4 separate regions of the Homo sapiens genome follow, and regions 1, 2 and 3 are each linked to region 4. Evidence: fine-mapped expression QTL. A gene starts in region 4. Each other region holds a variant in brackets. All regions are shown on one strand. Distances are between the middles of the regions. Region 1 has its middle 38 kb from the start of TRI-GAT1-1. Region 2 overlaps XG (Xg glycoprotein (Xg blood group)). Region 3 overlaps ARSD (arylsulfatase D). Region 4 holds the start of ARSL (arylsulfatase L).

Evidence for each region. PIP is the estimated chance that this variant, and not a neighbour inherited with it, causes the effect.
Region 1: its variant is fine-mapped to the expression of ARSL in stomach (GTEx, PIP above 0.99).
Region 2: its variant is fine-mapped to the expression of ARSL in lung (GTEx, PIP above 0.99).
Region 3: its variant is fine-mapped to the expression of ARSL in transverse colon (GTEx, PIP above 0.99).

The regions. Positions count from the first base shown.
Region 1 is chrX:3,797,280-3,803,162 of GRCh38, forward strand. No RefSeq gene overlaps it. Among named protein-coding and RNA genes, the nearest start is that of TRI-GAT1-1, 38 kb to the right of the region's middle. The variant C/G (reference allele first, on the strand shown) is at 2,604.
Region 2 is chrX:2,786,944-2,791,943 of GRCh38, forward strand. XG (Xg glycoprotein (Xg blood group)) reads left to right here. Exons shown (of 11, transcript NM_001141919.2): 5 at 2,701-2,763. Among named protein-coding and RNA genes, the nearest start is that of XG, 37 kb to the left of the region's middle. The variant C/T (reference allele first, on the strand shown) is at 2,750.
Region 3 is chrX:2,923,205-2,929,087 of GRCh38, forward strand. It overlaps ARSD (arylsulfatase D), which reads right to left. Exons shown (of 10, transcript NM_001669.4): 2 at 2,412-2,561. Among named protein-coding and RNA genes, the nearest start is that of ARSD, 3.2 kb to the right of the region's middle. RefSeq lists enhancers at 631-1,141, 1,142-1,651 and silencers at 5,623-5,782, 5,803-5,883. The variant C/T (reference allele first, on the strand shown) is at 2,634.
Region 4 is chrX:2,961,124-2,967,006 of GRCh38, forward strand. It overlaps ARSL (arylsulfatase L), which reads right to left and starts at 3,218. Exons shown (of 11, transcript NM_000047.3): 1 at 3,101-3,218. RefSeq lists enhancers at 1-226, 227-1,052, 2,703-3,526, 4,857-4,916.

The DNA of each region.
Region 1 (5,883 bases), 840 kb after region 4:
CAGAAATATTTGTTTGCAAAAATTTCCCCAAAGAGGTGCACAGATAAATCTTTTAAGATGAAGCCATGCGAAAATATAAAGGAAGGGCTGGGCGCGGTGGCTCAGGCCTGTCATCCCAGCACTTTGAGAGGCCAAGGTGGGCGCATCACTTGAGGTCAGGAGCTTGAGACCAGCCTGGCCAACATGGTGAAACCCCATCTCTACTAAAAATACAAAAATTAGCCGGGTGTGGTGGCACATGCCTGTAATCCCATCTACTTGGGAGGCTGAAGCAGGAGAATTGCTTGAACCCAGGAGGCGGCGGTTGCAGTGAGCTGAGATTGCACCACTGCACTCCAGACTGGGAAACAGAGTGAGACTCTGTCTCAAAAAAGAAAAAAATATAAAGGAAGACTGGTATCTGTTTGTCTGTTGAGTGTTGGACAATGTGGGGATGGGGAGGACAGGATTGTCTCTGCTCTTAACTTTCTTTTTAAATTAAACTTTTTTTGGAGATGAGGTCTTGCTCTGTTGCCCAGGCTGGAGTGCAGTTGTGCAATCGTGGTTCACTGCAGCCTTGGCTGCCTGGGCTGAAGCGATCCTCCCAGCTTAGCCTCCTGAGTTCCTGGGACCACAGGTGTGCTCCACCATACCCACTTAGTTTTTTATTTTTTGTAAGGTTGGGGTCGTGCTGTGTTGCCCCACTTGTCTTGAGCCCCTGGGCTCTAGTGATCCTTTTACCTTGGCCTCCCAAAATGCTGGGATTACATGCATGAGCCACTGTGCCTGGCCCTGGCTCTTAACTTTTGGGGTAACTGAAGTGATGCCCACCGTAGGTTTTGAGACTTAGGAGAAGACTAATTTTTTCTCTATGGAGAGGAAATTTATAGAACATAAAACTCAACATTTTGTTATTTTTATTATTTATTTATTTTTGAGACAGAGTCTCACTCTGTTGCCCAGACTGGAGTGCAGTGGTGCAATCTCAGCTCACTGCAACCTCTGCCTCCTGGGTTCAAGCAATTCTCCTGCCTCAGCTTCCCAAGTACCTGGAATTACAGGCGCCCACCACCATGTCCGGCTAGTTTTTGTATTTTCAGTAGAGACGGGGTTTCACCACGTTGGTCAAGCTGGTCTCGAACTCCTGACCTCAGGTGATCCACCCACCTTGGACTCCCAAGGTGCTGGGATTACAGGCGAGAGCCGCTGCACCTGGCAAAATTCACCATTTTAAAGTGTACAGCTCAGTGAGATTTAGTATGTTCACAACCACGTCTCTATCTAGTTCCAGAACATTTTCATATTTCCAAAACGGGACCCTGTACCCACTAGCAGTCACTTCCCATTCCGCCTCCCCAGCCTCTAATGGCCATGTATTTTCCGTCTCTGTGGATTTGCCTATTTTGGACACTTTATATAAATGGCATCATATAGCACGTGGTCTTTTGTGTCTGACTCGTTTCGCTGAGTGTGCTGTTATTCAGGTGCACCCACACTGTAACCTGTTTCCGAGCCGCATTCCTCTCTAGGGTTGCATCATGTTCCCTTGTGTGGATGGACCACGTTGTGTTTTTCTTCATCCACTGATGGTCATTTGGGTTGATTCCACTTGAGATGTTTTTTAACCTACGACTCAGGACACCTGGACTAGATTATTCATGATTTCTTCCAGATCTGCGATCTTAGATTTAAATAAATAGCAGTGTGCCATTTGGGTCACAGATGTTAGTTCTGTGTGAAACAGATCTATAGATAGGAAGAAGAAGTTTAACGAAGAGAAGATACAGACGGGCTGTGAAAAGTACCTGGGAAGAAATTGAAACTGCAACAGGGAAATGATGATAAAGTTTTTGGTGTGCAATGGATTATAAAAGGCGCTATACAACGGAGAGAATGTGTCCTTATTGTGTTCAGAGGATGAGAAGGTACGCAGGTGTGAGTCTGGCCTTGAATCTTCAACCCACTACTTCATCATTATTTTATTAAAACAAAACTTCGATGCATTTCAAATCATTGTCTTTTCCACATTAGGTAAAATTACATGCTATTTTTCATTTGAAGTATTTTTGGTTTTTGGTGGAGTAATGCTCTTATGGGTCTTTCTAATTTTATTTATTTATTTATTTGTTTATTTATTTATTTATTTATTTATGACAGGGTCTCTCTGTGTCACCCAGGCTGGAGTGCAGTGGCACGGTCTCAAGTAGCTGGGATGAAAAGCACACACCACCATGTCCAGCTAATTTTTTATTTTTATTTTTACTTTTTGAGATAGAGTCTCACTCTGTTGCCCAGGCTGGAGTACAGTGCTGCAATCTTGGCTCACTGCAACCTCCACTTCTCGGGGTCAAGAGATTCTCCTCGTTCAGCCACCTGAGTAGCTGGGATTATAGGCATGTACCACCAAGTTAGGCTAATTTTTGTATTTTTCATAGAGACAGGGTTTTACCATGTTAGCCAGGTTGGTCTCGAACTCCTGGCTTCAAGTGATCTGCCCACCTCGGCCTCCCAGAGTGCTGGAATTACAGGCATGAGCCACTGTGCCTGGCCAATTTTTTAAAAATTTAAGTTAAATTAAAATTATTTAATTTTTAATTTTTTACATGTTTATTTTAGACTCAGGG[C/G]TACATGTGCAGGTTTCTGACCTGGGTATATTGCATGATGCTGAGGTTTGGGCTCCTAATGGACCTGTCACCCAGGTAGTGAGCCTAGTACCTGGTAAGTACCTTTCCATCCGCTGTCCCCCTTCCTTCCTCTCCCGTCTAGCAGTCCCCAGAGTCTATTGTTCCCATCTTTATGTCCATGGGTACTCAATGTTTAGCTCCCACTTGTAAATGAGAAGATGTGCTATTTGACTTTCTGTTCCTGCCTTAATTTCCTTAGGATGATGGCCTCCAGCTCCATCCATGTTACTGCAAAGGACATGATTTTGTTCTTTTTATGGCTGTGTAGTATTCCTTGGTGTAGAGGTACCATATTTTCTTTATCCAGTCTGCCATGGATGGGCACCTGGATTGATTCCATGTCTTTGCTATTGTGAATAGTGCTGTGATGAACATATGTGTCCGTGTGTGTTTTTGGTAGAATGATTTATTTTCCTTTGGGTAGAAACTATTTTTTTAACAACTTTATTGAGATATAGCTTACATATGATATCATTTACCCACTTAATGCATGCAATTCAGTGTTTCGTAGTATATTCAGAGTTGTGCAACCATCACCACTATCAGTTTTAGAGCATTTGATTTTTTTTTTTTTTTTTTTTTTTTTTTGAGACAGAGTCTCGCTCTGTTGCCAGGCTGGACCGCAGTGGCGTGATATCAGCTCACTGCAGTCTCTGCCTCCAGGGTTCCAGCGATTCTCCTGCCTCAGTCTCCTGGGTAGCTGAGATTAAGGCACGCGTCACCACACCCAGCTAATTTTTGTATTTTTAGTAGAGACAGTATTTCACCATGTTGCCCAGGCTGGTCTCGAACTCCCGATCTCAGGTGATCACCTGCCTAGGCCTCCCGAAGTGCTGGGATTACAGGCGTGAGCCACCGCTCCCAGCCGAGCATTTGATTTCTTTGGTAAGACACTTTGTACCCTTTAGCTATAACCACCTTAACACCCCCTGCCCCCATCCCTAAGCAACCACAAATCTACTTTCCATCTTTATAGACTTCCTTGTTTTGAATTATCCTTTACATGGGATCATACAGAACACAGCGTTTTATGACTGGCTTCCATCACTTAGCAAATTGCCTTCAAGGTTCACTCATGTGGTGGCCTGTGTCAGAGCTTCAGTCCTTTTTAGGGCTGAAGAATATTCCATGATATGGATGGACCACATTTAGTTTACACATTCATTTGCTGACAGGCCATTTGAGGTTGTTACCACCTTTAGGCTACCATGAATAATGCTGCTGTGAATGTGTGTTTGAGAGTTTACGTGAGCAGACGTGAGCACATGTTTTCATTTCTCTTGGAGATATACTTCGGAGTGGAAACCCACCATGTTTTAGCTGTGAAATATTAGACTTGTCTTAATGTCTCCAAACTTTTGTTTCCACATTTATAAAATACAGTAGTACTTTCCTGGTAGGATTTGGGTGGCAATTATATGATTGTAGTTTGCAAAGAAGTTAAGAAGTGGATGGCACATCATGAGTGCTTCAACAATCACAGCTATGGCTATTATTTGTAAAAATAAATTTGCAGAAAGAGAAAGCCTGTATAGTGAAGGGGCTAGATAAATGTTTGAAAGCACAGAAGAGTTTACCATGGATTCACATTCCTTTGTTGAGGGTTGAATCATATGCCCAACTAACATATGTTGAAAGCTGAACCCCCAGTACCTGTGAATGGGGCCTTATTTGGAAATCCGGTCTTCACAGATGTACTGAAGGATGTGTGTGAAGTAAGTGATGCAGATGTAGGTTAAGGATCTCAAGATGAGCTCATCCTGGATTAGGGTGGGCCCTGAGTCCCCTGACAAGTATCCTTTTAAGAGACAGAAGAGGAGACAGGCACAGAGAAGGAGGCCACATAAGAAGGCAGGGACTGGAGTGATGTGGCAGCAAGCCCAGGGACACCGGGAGCCCCCAGGAGCTGGAGAGGCAGGAAGGATCCTCCACCTGAGGATCCTAACCCCTTTAAATTCACAGAACCTGTGAATGGGATCTGATTTGGAAATAGAGTCTTTACAGATACTATTCGTTAAGGATTCCAAAAGGAGCTTATCCTGGGTTAGGGAGAGTCCTGCATCCAATGACAGGTGTCCTTCTAACAGATGAAAGAGGAGACACAGACACAGAGGAGAAGGCCACGTACAGATGGAGGCAGAGACTGGAGCGATGCGGTCATAAGCCCAGGGATGCCTGGAGTCCCCAGGAGCTGGGAGAGGCAGGAAGGAACCTCCCCTGGAGCCTCCCCTAGAGCCTCCCCCAGAGCCTCCCCCAGAGCCTCCCCTAGAGCCTCCCCCAGAGCCTCCCCTAGAGTTTCCCCCAGAGCCTCCCCTAGAGCCTCCCCTAGAGCCTCCCCCAGAGCCTCCCCTAGAGCTTCCCCCAGACCCTCCCCTAGAGCTTCCCCCAAAGCCTCCCCTAGAGCCTCCCCTAGAGCCTCCCCCAGAGCCTCCCCCAGAGACTCCTGTACAGCCTCCCCTAGAGCCTCCCCCAGAGCCTCCCCTAGAGCCTCCCCTAGAGCCTTCGGAGGGAGCGCAGCCCCGACATTCCTTGATTTCAGACTCCTGGCCTCCAGGACCAGGAGACAATCAATTCCGGTTGTTTTAAGCTACTCAGGTTGTGGTACTGTATTACGGCAGCCTCAGGAAAGTCACTTGGGGTAAACACATTTGACACCCAAGAAGTGCTTCCTGCTGGGCGCAGTGGCTCACACCCATAATTCCAGCACTTTGGGAAGCTGAAGTGGGAGGATTTCTTTAGCCCAGGAGTTTGAGACCATCCTGGGCAACAGAGCGAGACCCCGTCTCTACAAAAAATAAAAAAATTAGCTGGGGCTGGGCGCAGTGGCTTACGCCTGTAATCCCAGCACTTTGGGAGACCGAAGTGGGCAGATCACCTGAGGTCAGGAGTTCGAGACCAGCCTGGACAACATGGTGAAACCCCATCTCTACTAAAAATACTAAAAGTAGCCGGGTGTGGTGGTACACGCCTGTAATCCCAGCTACTCAGAAGGCTGAAGTGGGAGAATCGCTTCAACCCAGGAGGTGAAGGTTGCAGTGAGCCGAGATCGCGCCACTGCACTCCACATTCCAGCCTGAGCGACAGAAGGAGACTCTGTCTCAAGTAAATAAATAAATAAGAAAAATTATCTGGGGCTGGGTGCAGTGTCTCACACCTGTAATCCCAGCACTTTGGGAGGCCGAGGTGGATGGATCACTTGAGGCCAGCCTGGCCTGGAGTT
Region 2 (5,000 bases), 170 kb before region 4:
TGTCTGTTGTTTATAAGCCACCCAGTCTATGGTGTTCTGTGACAGCAACCTGAAATGGACTAAGACACCTCATAAGAAGGGGAGATGAGGACGCAGACACACACAGAGGGACAATCCTGTGAGGACACAGGGAGAAGATGGCATCTGCAAGCCCAGGAGAGAGGCCTCAGGAGGAATCAGCCCAGCCCACACCTGGATCTCAGACTTCCAGCCTCCAGGACTGTGGGAGAATCAATGTCTGTTGTTTATAAGCCACCCAGTCTTTGGTATTCTGTGATAGCAGCCTGAAATGGACTAAGACATCTCATAAGAAGAGGAGATGAGGACACAGACACACACAGAGGGACGACCCTGTGAGGACACAGGGAGAAGATGGTGTCTACAAGCCAAGGAGAGAGGCCTCAGGAGTAAGCCCAGGAATCAATGCAGTTGGAGGTTCTGTGTGTGAATGGAGGAGGGAAGCTCACAGATGAAGGCGTTTTGAGGGAGGACTGACCTTACAGTGAGGTACCCAGAGACTTCCTGAACCAAGCCACGAATATGCAGCTCGTGCTCCGGGCAGTGCCTTCTGGCCTGGAAACCAAAGCTCCCTTGTGTCCAGTCCCCACTCCTCTGTTTGGCCCCCAAGTTTCCATAATCCCCCACAGTTGTATCATTTTAGAGACCTCAAAAGAGAGTCTAGGCTGGGCGTGGTGGCTCATGCCTGTAATCCCAGCCCTTTCAGAGGCCGACGTGGGTGGATCACCTGAAGTCAGGATTTCAAGACCAGCCTGGCCAACATGGTGAAACCCTGTCTCTACTAAAAATACAAAAATTAGCTGGGCATGGTGGTGTATACCTGTAATCCCAGCTACTTGGGAGGCTGGGGCCAGAGAATCGCTTGAACCCAGGAGGCGGAGGTTGCAGGGAGCCGAGATTGTGCCACTGCACTCCAGCCTGGGCAACAACAGCAAAACTCCTTCTCAAAAAAAAAAAAAAAAAAAGAGAGTCTAGGCAGGGCATGGTGGTCCATGCCTGTAGTCCTAGCTATACTCAGGAGGCTGAGGTAGGAGGATCACTTGAGCCCAGGAGGTGGAGGCTGCAGTGAGCTATGATTCACCACTGCACTCCAGCCTGGGCAACAGAGCAACACCCTGTCTCAAGAGAGAGAGAAAGGGAAAGAGAGAGAGACTATTTTGAGAAGTGAAAAACCAGTCATTCTCAGCCCAGATTTCCAGTGTTCTGAGACGTCTGTCCTGAGGAAGGACTTTGAGAACAGCATCCTTGCCTTTTTTGTGAATTAAAGTAATTTCACTCTTGAGCCAATGTGGATAAGCACTTGACAGGTACTGGCAGTGCCAGGTACCAGGAATATAGAATGGGTACAGAAAATAAAGTTTCTAGTCCAGCGACAAAAAGGTGCTGAAGATACAGACTCATGTCGTGCAAAGAGCTTGCACTGATTATTTCATTTCGGCTTCTTGAATAGGGTCAAAGGACATTTAAGCTGAGACAGGAGGGACGAGCTAATTAATGCTTTTCCAGATGACAAATGGATTCTTCAAATATTTAGGGAGAGTGTAAAGTGATGGACAGGGAACAGGAGGGGTCATGACAGAAGGAATGCCACCTGCAAAAGTCCTGGGGCAGGGCTGGGCACGGTGGCTCATGCGTGTAATCCCAACACTTTGGGAGGCCAAGGTGGGCAGATCACCTGAGGTCAGAAGTTCGAGACCAGCCTGGGCAACATAGTGAAATCCCATCTCTACTAAAAATACAAAAATTGGCCAGGCGTGGTGGCACACACCTGTAATCTCAGCTACTCGGGAGGCTGAGGCAGGAGAATTGTTTGAACCCAGGAGGCAGAGGTTGCCGTGAGCTGAGATCACACCACTGCACTCCAGCCTGGGCGACAAAAGCGAAACTCCGTCTTAAAAAAAAAAGTCCTAGGGCAGAAAGCTCATGGTAAACTTGAGGAACATGCAAAAGTCATTGCAAAAAGTTTTAAGAAATTCAAATGAAGCCAGGCTCAGTGTGGCTAATGCCTATGATGATTCCAGCTCTTTGGGAAGGCAAGACAGGACGATTGCTTAAGAACAGGAATTTGAGACCAACCTGGGCAACATAGCAAGACCTTGTCTCTACACAAATTTTAAAAATTAGCCAACTATGGTGGTATGCACCTGTAGACTGAGCTACATGGGTGGCTGAGGTGGGAGGATTGTTTGAGCCTAGGAACTCGAGGCTGCGGGGAGCTATGATTGCACCACTGCACTGCAGCCTGGGCAACAGAGCAAGACTCTGTCTCAAAACAACAACAACACAAATTCAAATGAAACGGTGTAACTCAAGCAAGATGGAAATACAACACACTATCAAAAGGTCAGATGTTTCATCCTAACATTTATAGAAGTGACTGACTTCTGTAAATGGTGCTGGCATCTGTAGTAGCCCTAAACAGGGAAAGGTCAACAACGCACTTTCTGCCCTGTTAATTTCAGAGAGCCCTGGACTTCTTGCGAAAGCACCAGTGGTGTAAGTTTTTGTTTTTTCATTGTAAGCTCTGAGGTGGTATTATGAATATTGTCTACATGATTAATAAGCTCCGTAAAAGCAATGGGCAGTAACATCTTTTCTGTACTTTGGCATTCTTATTTATAGATGGTATCTACCTGAAAGATGTCATTATTTTTCTGAAATCATACTGTTGTTTTCCAACAGATATCTACCCAAGGCCAAAGCCACGCCCTCAACCCCAGCCTGGCAATTC[C/T]GGCAACAGTGGAGGTAATGAGTATTTATTTATTTATTTTTATTTTATTTTATTTTATTTTATTTTACTATTTTATTTGATTCTATGTTATTTTACTTTATTTTACCATTTTATTTGATTCTATGTTATTTTACTTTATTTTATTTGATTCTATGTTATTTTACTATTTTATTTTATTATTTATTTTGGAGACAGGGTCTCGCTCTGTTGCCCTGGCCAGAGTGAAGTGATGTAATTGCAGCCTTGAACTCCTGGGCTCAAGCAATCTTCCTCCCTCAGCCTTTCAAGTAGTTAGGACTACAGATGTGTACCACCTACATTGCACCACCTATATTTCACCACCTATATTGGCTATATTTCAAATTTTTTGCAGAGACAGGATCTTGCTGTGTTGTTCAGGCTATTCTTGAACTCCCGGCCTCAAGCAATCCTCTGCCTCAGCCTCCCAAAATGCTGGGATTACAGGCACCAGCTATTGTGGCCCAGCCTGATAATCAGTATTAAAGTCCATTTTAGAAGTGTTTGGGGCCAGGCACAGTGGCTCATGCCTGTAATCCCAGCACTTTGGGAAGCCGAGGTGGGCGGATCACTTGAGGTCAGGAGTTTGACACCAGCCTGAGCAATATGATGAAACCCTGTCTCTACTAAAAATACAAAAATTCGCCGGGCGTGGTGGTACATGCCTGTAATCCAGCTACTCAGGAGGATGAAGCAGGAGAATCGCTTGAACCCGCAAAGCGGAGGCTGCTGTGAGTTGAGATCACGCCACAGCACTCCAGCCTGGGAGACAGAGCGAGCCCCTGTCTCAAAAGGAAAAAAAAAAAAAAAAAGAAGTGCTTCACGCCTGTAATCCCAGCACTTTGGGAGGCCGAGGTCTCCTCAGGCAGATCACCTGAGGTCAGGAGTTTGAAACCAGCGGCCAACATGGTGAACCCCTGTTTCTACTAAAAATACAAAATTAGCTGGGCAGAGTGACGCGTGCCTGTAATCCCAGCTACTGGGGAGGCTGAGGCAGGAGAATCGCTTGAACCCAGGAGGCGGAGGTTGCCTTGAGCCAAGATTGTGCCAATGCACAATCTATCTAGGTGATAGAGTGAGACTCTGTCTCAAAAAAAGGCGGGGGGGTGGTTGGATACAAGTATTATTTAATGACTTAAAAATTCTCATCTCCATGGTGAAAGACCAATTGCTTTTGAAATGCACAGACATTGTTTTGCGAGGAGTTCAGTTCTACTATCCACCAGCACCTGGGGATTACATTTAGTTGATAGTAAATAAATTTAAATGTTTTTGATGACATTGACTGAAAAATACCATGCACACTAAGACATTTCAAGTTATGATGGAGGAAGGCAATTTTTTCTTGTTTTTTTTTTTGTTGGTCTGTGTTCTACTCACTTATTCTTCCCTCTGCAAGAGTTATCTGCGGCCACTTTGCCTGTGTTCCTACAGCACTTCCCATCTCCGCCTTGGCAATTGTGTCTCACGAACGTGAGACACTCAGGAAAGAGATGCTGGTCTGTAAAGTTGGAAGAGTCTCAGCGATTCCATTGGTGGGGCAAATGTGTGCAGATTGAGGAAGCTAAGATACACTGGGTGTCTTCCTCTCTCCACCTGCTTTAACCATTGGGAGTTCCCCTGATTGTGATTGTTTCAGGACGTTGCTTGGATGTTGTCATATTCCTAGGGTTCAAGGCACTCCGTGAAATCCAAGGAAACAAGCTTTGGGTATGTCCCAGTGCCTTTTCCCTTGGGTCTTGCAACTGAAGAATTGTGTTTCTTCCCTAGAAAAACGAACACACTTTTGCCCACTCACCCACCTCCTGCAAGTCTCCAAAACCACAGCGTTGTATCCTAGACTATGTTCCCCCAGGAGGTGGTTCCTCCCTCTGCATTCCCGTACTCCATACTGCTTGATATGTTCTTACATGCAACACCGTGCAATTGTGTTTAGTTGATTCCTGTGAATTAGAATGAGAACTCTACATGGGCATGGATTTTTGCCTTTCATTCACTGCTGCATTCCCTAGTCTGGAAAGCTGTGCCTGGCACACAATGAGTCCTAGGTGAAGGTCAGTGAAGTCATTAATGCTTGAGTCCCAACAGGCAAACAGCTGGATTCATGAATGAAAGACTTACCGCTACATCCCTTCATCAGGGTGTATAGCTTCAACTCCATTTCCTGGAAAGCTCTACAATAGTTCTTCCTCCTCAAAAGGCTCTGGTCTTGTGATTCATAGCATTCGTCCAC
Region 3 (5,883 bases), 38 kb before region 4:
GGTTCACGCCTGTCATCCCAGCACTTTGGGGGGCTAAGGTGGGTGGATCACTTGAGGCCAGGAGTTCGAGACAAGCCTTGGCAACATAGTGAAAACCTGTCTCTACAAAAAATACAAAAATTAGCTGGGCGTGGTGGCATGTGCCTGTAGTCTCAGCTACTCAGGAGGCTGAGGTGAGAGCCTAGGAGATGGAGGTTGCAGTGAGCTGTGATCATGCCACTGCATTCCAGCCTGGGCAACAGAGTGAGACCCTGTCTCAAAAAACAAAACAAAATAAAACAGAAAAACAAACCCAGTAGACATTTATTCTCTCACATTTCTGGGAGCTGGAAGTCTGAGATCAAGCATGGGCAGGGCTGGTTCCTCCTGAGGCCACCACCCTGGGCTCGTAGACACCATCTTCTCCCTGTGTCCTCAGGTGGTCATTGCTCTGTGTGTGTCTGTGTCCTCATCTCCTCTTCTTATAAGGACCCCAGTCCTATTGGATCAGGGCCCACCCTAGTGACCTCATTTTACCTGAATCACGTCTCTAAAGACTCAGTCTCCAAATAGAGTCACAGTCTGAGGTCCTGGGGGTCAGGACTTCGACGTAGGCGTTTAGGGGACACAGATTCGCTCCTCGCTGGAGGTGATGGCTAAGGGGATGCAGAGTTTCTTTGGGGGTATGCAAATGCTCTAACATGGTTTGTGGTGACAGATGCACAGCTCCATGAATAGAATAAAAGTCCCTGAACTGTACACTGTAAACAGATGAACCGCATGTTCTGTGAATTACAACCAGGCCTGCTCAGGGTGTTCGAAAGGGGATCCCTGGACAGGGGGCAGATTGATTGATTGATTGACTTAGAGACAGGGTCTTGCTCTGTGGCCCAGGCTAGAATGCAGTGGCGCAACCTCAGCTCACCATAACCTCCACCTCCCGGGCTCAAGCCATCCTCCACTCTCAGCTTCCTGAGTAGCTGGGACTACAGGCATGCGCCACCACACCTGGCTAATTTTTTGTATGTTTCATAGAGACAGGGTTTTGCCATGTTGCCCAAGCTGGTCTCAAACTCCTGGGCTCAAGTGATCCACCTTCCTTGGCCTCCCAAAATGCTGGGATGACAGGCGGGAGCCACCGTGCCCGGCCCACACAGGGCAGACTGCTGCAGGTGCTGCAATGTTCACTGCAAAGAAGGGAGGCCCTGCTCTGCGGGGACCGCTCCTGAGGTTGGCAGCTATTGAAAAGCAGATGCAGCCTGCATTCTGGGGCGGTCCTTCTAGGAGAAAAGCCCACCAAATGGAATAAGGAGCTTTCTCACCTTTTCTCCTGTTGCAGAAAGCACGTGAGCACCACTCAAGCGCTCTGCTGGTAAGGTTGGCATAGAGGCTACTACTCTGTGTTTGCACATGCCACTGCAGTGGGCTGAATGGGGGTCTGCGAACCGATCTGTCCACGTGCTGACCCCCCAAACCTGTGTGTGAGACCTTGCTTAGAAAAACTGTCTTTGGAGTTGTTATTAGGTATCCCGAGATGAGATCATCCTGGTTTAGAGAGGGCCCCAGATGCAATGGCCAGTGTCCTTCTGAGAGACAGAGGAGGAGACACAGACACAGGGGAGAAGGCCGCATGGGGACGGAGGCACAAACTGGAGTGATGTGGCCACAAAGCCAGAGATGCCTGGAGCCCCCAGGAGCTGGGAGAGGCAGGAAGGGTCCTCCCCTACAGCCTCTCAGGGAGCTCTGTTGGTGTCTTAATCTCCTCTTTTAGTAATCCATATCAGATTAGGGCTCACCCTAAGGACCTCAGTTTAACTTAATTACCTCTTCAAAGACCCCATCTCTGAAAACGGTCACACCCTGAAGTACCGGCGGTTAGGGCTTCAACCTACAAATTTGGAGGAGGCCAGAATTTGGCCCACAACAGACGTTGTTTGCAAACGTCATCAACAGAAGATGAGATCTTTACAGCGGGCAGGCCTTGCTGCAATGGCCGGTGTCCTTATAGGATGAGGAGATTAGGACACAGACGCAGAGGAGAAGGCCCCGTGGAGACGGAGGCAGAGACTGGAGTGATGTGGCCACAAGCTCAGGGACACCTGGAGCCCCCAGGAGCTGGGAAAGTCCGGAAGGATCCTCCCATAGGGCCCCCAGAGGGAGCCCGGCCCTGCCCACACCTGGATTTAAGATTTCTGGTCTCCAGACCTGGGAGAACAAATTTCCGTTGTTTTAAGCTACCCATTTTGTGGTAGTAATACATTCACCCCCTCACCGCAGTTCCGCATGGTTTAAAAGGGCCTTTTTACCTGTTGGTAGTTTTTTGTTGAGTTCTGAGGCCCTAAGGAGTTTCCTAATTTCTCCAGGCAGATTTTAAATGCACCATTCCGTCAAACTCACATAACATCATCACCAATAGCAACAACCAACTGTACCTCAGTGTATTGTTCCCGTAGCAACCGAGATCCCCAGTGCCTAGATCATCCGCCATGATCAGTAGGATATTTGGTTTAAAGGCATTTGCAGTTTTAGGTTCACACGTCTTCAGAAGCAAGCATAAAAACAGTAGCACCGGCAAAGAGTCCCTGGAGAGAAAAGCGAAACACAGAAATGACTATCTACAATTTGGCAAGGGAAGTAGGCATTTCAAGGCAGCT[C/T]GCTGGGAAGGCGAAGGTCTTACCACTAAATTAAGACGTTCAGCTTTATGGGAGGTTATTGTCTTGGCCTGAATTCCTGCACTGGTGTCCCTGGGCCAAACCGAGGGTCAGACTGCTATTTCTTGTGACCCAATAGCGAGATGCAGATGAATTGGGAAAGAAGAGAGTTTTTAATTCTGTAACCAGTTACAGGAGGAAGGCCTGGAAATTCTCTCCCAACCAACTCAAAATTACAAAGCTTTCCAGAGCTTATATACCTTCAAAGCTATATGTCTAAGTGTAAGTGTGCATTTATCTAAAGACATAAGTGATTAACTTCTTCTAATCTGTAATTAAGATCTGAGTCCTGAAGACCTTCCTCTGGAGCCTCGGTGAATTGACTTAATCTAGATGGGTCCAGGTGCTGGGGTGATTACCCTTATCTTGTCTCCTGCTAAATCACAGAGTTCTGGGGAGTTCCTTTAGTCCCCAACAAAGCTTGTTTGTGGAGGTCTGGGGAGTTTCTTCAGACCCACAATAAAACTTGTTTAATCCTAAATGGGTCCTGTTAAGAATTCCTTCGTTATCTTGTCATGCTTCAAAGGCCCAGGAGAGGCCTGGGCAGAACTCTTGGTGTGCTTTTGTTACATCCCAGCCTGTGCATAAAGGCGCTGGTTGTTTCAGCTTTTAGTATGTAACTTCACACTCAGTCAGTGCTGAAACAGTTGTTACGGAGGCCTGCATTAGTGAGACCTGGCCTGCCACACTAGACCATACAGGTCAGAACAAACTGGAATGGAGTCACTTGTGTTAACTGCCACATCGTCAAGCTGAACAGGGAAACAGGTCAGTTTTCCAAAAAACAGAAGATTTGAGTAAGCAAGAAGAAGATGTGTAGTTCATCTGAGCTAACAAAGTCTCCCGTGCTTTAACCCTGTAAGAAAAGTAACTTTGAAACAACCAATCTGCTTTATTATTCTTTTTTTTCTTTTTTTTGAGATGGGGTCTTGCTGTGCTGCCCAGGCTGTAGTGGCATGATGGTGGCTTACAGCAACCTCTGCCTGATTCTGAGGTGGGAGGATTGATTCAAGCAGTCCTTGAACTGCAGTGGATAGGTGGTGTCTTAGTGTTGGGGGATCGTGGCTGTGCTCTCCGGGGAGGACGCGAACGAGGGGTGTGTCTCAGGGTGTGTGAGGGGACACGGCTCTACTGGGGGGCAGGGGAGGAATAAGGCCATGGGGAGGGATCCGGTGTGGCCAGCAGGGCAATGGCCGCGGAAGGGGACAGGACGGGGCGTGTCTTGGAGGGTGGCGAGAGGCACGGCAGTGCTGCTGAGGCAGGAGAATAGGGTCTGGAGGCAGGGAACCTAAGGCTTTCCATGCCGACTTCCTAGAAGTAAATTGAAAGGAAAATCCTAACTTTCCTTTTTTTTTTAATTTTAATTTTTATTATTATTTTTTGAGATGGAGTTTCACTCTTGTCGCCCAGGCTGCAGTTCAATGGCATGATCCGGGCTCACTGCAACCTCCACCTCCAGGGTTCAAGCGATTCTCCTGTCTCAGCCTCCTGAGTAGCTGGGATCACAGGTGCCTGCCACCACGCCCGGCTAATTTTTTTGTAATTTTAGTAGAGGCCCGGCCTAATTTTTGTATTTTTAGTAGAGACGGGATTTCACCATATTGGCCATGCTGGTCTCAAACTCCTGACCTCAGGTGATCCACCCGTCTCGGCCTCCCAAAGTGCTGGGATTACAGGCATGAGCCACCTCGCCTGGCGGGAAAATCCTAACTTTCCATGCCTAAGTAACAAAAGGACCGAAGGCTTCCCTTTGACCTTTTCTATTGGGTAGATAGTAGACTGGCTGTCTGCAACCAATCGGACTGATTTCGGGTCTAGTCTTCGTGTGCAACTTTGTGACTTCACCCTAGTCTCTGATTAGTTGGGTTTTGCAACCAATCAGATGTTTGCACAGGAGTGTGACCTTTGTAACTTCACCCTTTGGTTGGCTGCTGCCTGCAACCAATCAGACTGATCGCGGGCCACCACTTCAGTTACATGAGGTGAGCATGAAGTGGCCAATGGGAAACTTCTAGGGGGTATTTGGACCCAAGAAGATTATGTACCCGGGCCCTTGAGCCGCTGCTTGGTCGGCTCCCACACTGTGACGTGTCCTTTTGTTTTCAATAAATCCCTGCTTTCCTTCTTTTGTTGCTTCATTCTTTCTTTGCTGGGCGTTTTGTCCAATTCTTTGTTCAAAACGCCAAGAACCTGGACAACTTGCAGTCACGACCCTCTACCGGTGGCACTGGGGCGCAAATGAAGCTGGGAATGCAGGACCCGGCGCATCTGAGGAAGTGCAGCGGGGCATGGCGGTGCTAGAGGGTGGGGACATGGAGGCGGCACAAGGCCAAGGCGCCGGGGGATGGCCAGAGGGAAGTAACGGCCGCGCTTGTGGTGGAGATGGGGACGGGACAGAGAAGTCTTGGGGGGTGACCGGGGTAGGCACGGCGGTGCTGGGGGGAGGGCGCCCAATGAAGCCCACGGGGGGGAAAGGGGCGTGTCTTACCGAGCGTGTTGGGGGAGTCACAGCCGTGCTTGGGAGGATGGGGTCTGGGGGAAGGACGGGGCGCGTCTTAGTGGGATGAGGGGGAGGGCACAGCCGTGCTGGGAAGGCAAAGGGCCGGGGGGCGGGATGGAGCATGTCATGGTGGGGCCGAAGAGGCGGGGGGCGGGAAGGGGCCTTCTTAGAAATCGGGAGGGCGTCACAGCTGTGCTCGGGAGGACGGGGCGTTGGGGAGGGACAGGGAGCGTCTTAGTGGACCCGGGGAACACGGCCGTGCTGGAAGGCATCGAGCTGGGGGGTTGGGGGCGGGACGGGGTGCCTCTTAGGAAGTGGGGCGGGCAAGGCTACGCTTCGGGGGATGGAGCCTTGGGGCGGGACGGGGCGCGTCTTAGTGGGGCAGAGCGGGGGGCGCGGTTCGGGGCGGGTCTTAGGGAGCCTTTGAAGGCCGAATCCGGGCAGCGGTGTAGCTGGGCGTGGAAGGCGGAGGACCCAGCAGGGCGTGACCGGCCCAGTTTCCGCTCCCTCCGGGTCCCGGCCAGCCTTCCTCCGCCCTCCCTTCCCTTCCTCCTTTGTTCTCTTTCCCTGCCCTTCCGCCTTCCCTTCAGTTCGGTCTCCTCCACCCGCCCTTCGTCCCCTCAGTCGCCCCCCATCCCTGGGCTCTGCTGTCTGGCGTCTTTCCCGGGCACAGAACGCGCCTCCAGCTACATT
Region 4 (5,883 bases):
TAGGGGTAGGTGCTGCCGGGAGAGGGGGCGACCATTGCCCACACTTGGAAATGTTCTGTCCACAGAGGGAAACGGGCGACCCCCAAAGCACAGAGGGGCGGCCCCTCAGTCTCGCCGAGAAGTGAGGGAGAGCCCAGGGTGTAGAGCAGGAAAGGAATGAGATGGAAGATAACAATTAGAGTTGCAGGCAGCAAGAGGTCACCTTCAGGGTACTGCAGTGGTCTGACCCCATGTGGCTTGTGCATGGGACTGAGGACGAAGCTCTGATTTTTCTTTTTATCTTGCCCAAATTCCTATCTAAGGGGTCTGGAGAGTCATGCCCTACAAACCAAAAATTCTCATCAGAAGGGTTTCATTTAACTATATATTGTGACTTACTTTCCAATCTGACTCTGGCATAACATGAGACCAATAAGAAAATCAAAATATTTTACCCAAAAACATGTTTCTTTGCCATATCTTGAAATGGCCCTGCAAAGCTGTCCTTTGTGGGGAAAAATTTGCATCTGTAAAGATGTAAAGAATCTCTATTCACATAGATATTCACATCTTTTTCTACCGGACCCTTCCAATCCTGAAAAGATTGACTAAGACTCTAGCACCTTTTAAAAGTCTGAATAGGAAACAATTGTCATCTATTGTCTCTAAGGGCAGCCGCTACAAGACTTCAAAATAACCTTGGTCTCCACAATCTTTTCTCTTAACCTGAAGATTTCTTTTCTAGGGATCCCAGGGTTTTTTTTTTTTTTTTTTAATCTTTCTTTTTTATTTTTTTGAGACGGAGTCTTGCTCTGTTGCCCAGGCTGGAGTGCAATGGCGCGATCTTGGCTCACTGCAAGCTCCGCCTCCCGGGTTCAAGTGATTCTCCTGCCTCAGCCTCCTAGGATCCCAGGTCTTTAGATGAACTCAACCAATTGTCAACCAGGAAATGTTTAAATCTATGTATAAGCTGGAAGCCCCCTGACTTTGAGTTGTTCCACCTTTCTGGACCAAACCAATGTGTATCTTAAATGTATTTGATTGACACCTCATGCCTCCCTAAAATGTATAAAACAAGCTGCACCCTGACCACCTTGGGCACACGTTCTTGGGTCCTCCTGAGGGCTGTGTCATGGGCCATGGTCACTCTTATTTGGCTCAGAATAAATCTCTTCAAATATTCTACAGAGTTCGCTTCTTTTCGTTGACAGGACATGGGCATGCATAGAAGATAAAGAGACAGGAGCATGCAGATGTGTTGGGTTTCTGCCTCTGAGTAACCAGGGGAGTGACCTGGCCACTTTTAGAAGGGCCGAGCGGCCAGTGAGTGAGGACACACTGGAGCCAGCAGGCACTGAGAGCCTAGAAGTGGCCGTGGTGTCTGTCCAGGTGAAACCTGACCAAGGATAGACACAGCTGGTGTGGGAGCGGGGAGGGCAGAGAGGAGGGGTGGGCAAGGTCCGCAGGGCTGCGAAACCCCAGGGTGTGAGTGGGAGAGAAGCGATTGGTTGAGGGATTTCCCCTCAACGCCTTTTCGGGGATGCTGGGAGGGGTGTTTGCTCCTAGCAGGATTCAGGCACAAAACCAGTCTTCTGAGAAAGACAATGAGCTTTGTGAAAGGAAAATAAATCTCAAGGCCCGCAAGTCAATAAGCTAAAGGGAAAAGTCAAGCGGGGAACTGCTTAGGGCCTCTGCCTCCCATTCTAGTCAAAGTCCCCCCTTTGCTCACTGAGATAGATGCGTATCTGATTGCCTCCTTTGGAAAGGCTCATCAGAAACTCAAAAGAAGGCAACTGTTCCTCTCTCACCTATCTGTGACCTGGAAGCCCCCTCCCTGCTTACAGTCTTCCTGCCTTTGCTTCAAGTTTTCCGGCCTTTCCAGACCGAATCAATGCACTTCTTACATTATTGATGGATGTCTAACACTGAATTGCTACATCTCCAATAATTTTCTGTCTGTCGAAGAGAAAAAGACCTTAGATATCATTTGTGCTTTGTTTAGAACACAGAAGGAAGGGATAAGGTGTACGCCGTGCTCGTGAGGTTTTTTTGTTTATTTGTTCGTTTGTTTTACCCTAGAGAGCACACACAATTCTCATATTCTAAAAGTAATAGCAAAAGACGCAATTACGTTTCACCAACCTAATAGCATCTTCACCGGGAAAGAGATTGATTTAAAATTGTACATGGAGAGAAAACCAAAATGAGCATTTTAATACCCTCAGCATTGCTTTCTGACCTACAATGACATGCTGCCAATGGTCAGAAAACGGAATAAAAGCAAAATACTGTACAAATGTAATGAGAAAACCCCAAACCACCACAAACTAGGGGAAGATGGTTTTTGCAGCAATCCTGCCCAGCAGTGGTTTATCTCTGGGTGTGGAGATTTAGGAAAAGTGCTCTTTTTCTAATTTTTCTTTTCTTTTCCTTTTTTTTTTTTTTTTTTTTTTTTTGAGATAGGGTCTGGCTGTTTCACCCAGGCTGGAGAGCAATGGTGCGACCATAGTTCACTGCAGCCTCAAATTCTTGGGCTCAAGCGATCCTCCTACCTCAGCCTCCCAAGTAGCTGAAACTACAGGCACATGCCACTATGCCTGGCTATTGATTTTTTTTTTTTTAAGTAGAGGTGGGGTTTCCTCTTTTGCTCAGGCTGGTCTCAAACTCCTGGGCTCAAGCAATCCACCCGCCTCGACCTCCCAAAGTGCTGGGATTACAGACGTGAGCCACCGTGCCCGACCTAATTTTTCTTTCTCCCGCAATGTTATGTATTTATAAGTAAAAATATGAATATTTTTTCTTGGAGAAAAACGTTAAATAAATAAAGAGATGGTGATAACAGCCTTGAATGAGTTTAATTTTGGAAACTGTGACATTGAGGTGACCCAGAGCATGGGGCCTGCCCAAGGCCTCTCCTGCAGATTAGAAAACAGATCCCCCTTCTCCAGGAAAGAGCTGCATTCCTAGGCCTGTAAGTCACGGGTACGTTTCTGCTTTATCAAAACAAACTGGGCAATTATTCAGAGACAGAAAAGGGAACGGGGAGCTCTTTGTTCACCACGCTATTCATGCCTGGTCACGGAGCCCAAATCCAGCACAAATGAACATTCACAGGACTCACCTCTGCTCCTGGGCTCCTTCCTGAATCCCCGATCAAGAAGAGGAAGGTTCTCTCCCAAAGGAAGCAAGCGTGAAGGCAGAGAGCACTTGCACAAGGCTTTGAGCTGGGAATGATTAACTTCGAGTTTGTTTTTCCCAAGTCAGAAGATCAGAGAGAGTTAGGACAGACAGAGCAGACTCCCCCCACATCGCAGCATGGGGGAATCTCAAAGCCACGCCCACGTCTACCAAACCAGTGGTCAGTTTCCTTAGGTTTTTATTTTGTTTTATTTTTTGTAGAGACGGGGTTTTGCCATGTGGCCTAGGCTGGTCTCAAAGTCCTGAGCTCCAGTGATCTGCCCTCCTTGGCCTCCCGAAGTGCTGGGATTACAGATGTGAGTCACCGTATTCTGCCAGTGTCCTTAGGTTTTTAAGTGATTGCCTGTGCTGTTACACAGGGTGCTGGCTATAATATGATCATATCCAACCTGGCATGGTGGCTCATGCCTGTAATCCCAGCGCTTTGGGAGGACGAGGCAGGAAGATTGCTTGAGGCCAGGAGTTTCAGAGCAGCCTGGGCAGCAAAGTGAGATGCTGTCTCTTCAAAAATAAAAAATATTAGGCTGGGCAGTGTGGCTTATGCCCATAATCCTAGCACTTGGGGAGGTTGAGGCAGGAAGATCGCTTGAGCCCAGGACTTCGAGACCAGCCCGGGCATCATAGCAAGACCCTGTCTCTATAAATAATAAAACAATTAGCCAGGCATGGTGGCATGTGTCTCTACTGCCAGCTACTCAGGAGGCTGAGGTGGAAAGATTGTTTGAGCCTGGGAGGTTGAAGCTGCAGTTTCACTCCAGCCTGAGTGACAGAGCAAGACCCTGCCTCAAAAAAAAATGTTTTAAAGAAGTTATTTGTTGAGTGGTAAATGAAGTAAATAAGAAATAATAAAGATAAGATAAAAATAAAAAAGAAAACATTTCTTAAAGTAAATAAACAAACAAACAAAAGAAGTAAAAAGGCCAGGCGCAGTGGCTCATGCCTGTAATTCCAGCACTTTGGGAGGACGAGGTGGGCCGATCACTTGAACCCAAGAGCTCGAGACTAGCCTGGCCAACATGGTGAAACCCTGTCTCTGCTAAAAATAGAAAAATTAGCCAGGCATGGTGTCACATGCCTGTAATCCCAGCTACTCGGGAGGCTGAGGCAAGAAAATTGCTTGAACCCCGGAGTCGGAGGTTACAGTGAGGCAAGATCGCAGCATTGTACTCCAGCCTCAGCAACGGAGAGAGACTCTGTCTCAAAAATTATAGTAATAATAATAATAAACATAAGATAAAAAGAAAAAAAATAAGCAAAAAAAAAAGTAAAAAAAGGATTATTTTCAAGCAATGCTTGGTTTAAAAACATAGAAAAGACGGGCTGGGCACGGTGGCTCACGCCTGTAATCCCAGCGCTTTGGGAGGCTGAGGTGGGCTGATCACCTGAGGTCAGGTGTTTGAGACTAGCCTGGCCAACATGGCAAAACCCCGTCTGTACTAAAAATACAAAAATTAGCTGGATGTGGTGGCGTGCACCTGTAATCCCAGCTACTTGGGAGGCTGAGATAGGAGAATCGCTTGAACCCGGGAGACGGAGCTTGCAGTGAGCCGAGACTGTGCCGCTGCACTCCAGCCTGGGCGGCAGAGTGAGACTCCGTCTCAAAAAAGAAAAGACAAGACAAGACCAAGAGGGCAGGAAGCAGTTTCTGAGGCACTGCATGATCATTGCTGGGAAGTTACTCTGTAGAATGGAACCCTACGCAATGGTCCCTATTATTCAACCATCCTTGACCTACAAGGACGGGGTTTCATAGAGTTCCACCTGCTGTCTCTTCGCAACTTCATATGCAGCCACATGCTGGGTCTGTGAGAAGTCACATAGCCTACCTGATCTCACTTCCTCCTTATGTGGGGGTGGAAACCACCCTACTTCTGGGATGAGGAGCTGACACGCTGGCACACTCCAGCCTGACTCATTTTTACAAGTGGACGGTTTTGGTGGCATGTCTCAAAACGAGTATTAGGAGGGGTGTCAGAAATGTTTTCTTTTCCTGCCACAGGTGTGTGCCCTAATGGTAATTGCTTTCACTTTGTGATTTTTGGCAACAAATCTTAAGTCATTTCCTCGTAGGGGGCCTAAAGGAATATTTTCACCTATATTTTAATTTATATATTCATAATTATTATATATAATATAGTATAACTTTTGTACATCATACATAGTATAAATGTATCACATAAAATATGTAAATAAGGCTGGGTGTGGTGGCTCACGCCTATAATCCCAGCACTTAGGGAGGCCGAGGTGGGAGGATTGCTTGAGCCCAGGAGTTCAAGTTAAGTCTGAGCAACAAAGTGAGAGCCTATCTCTAGAAAAAAAAAACAAAACAATAAAATATATAAATATAATATATAAATATATAATAAAGCATAATTTTTCTTTATTAAAATATGCATGCTTTTCTTTACAAAAATAATATATACTTTAAAATATATATGTACATATATGTATAGATACATAAAACATGTACATATACGTACACATCTACATATAAATACATGTTATAATATGCACGTATAAATATAAACATATAACATATAAACATGTACCTATAGACATCTACATACATGTTTATGTGTTCATATATGTATGCTTATATGTATATAATGTATACATGTACATGCATGTATATATACATACATATATGTATACATAACATATATACCTATAAAACATGTACGTATATACATGTAACGTTAATATATG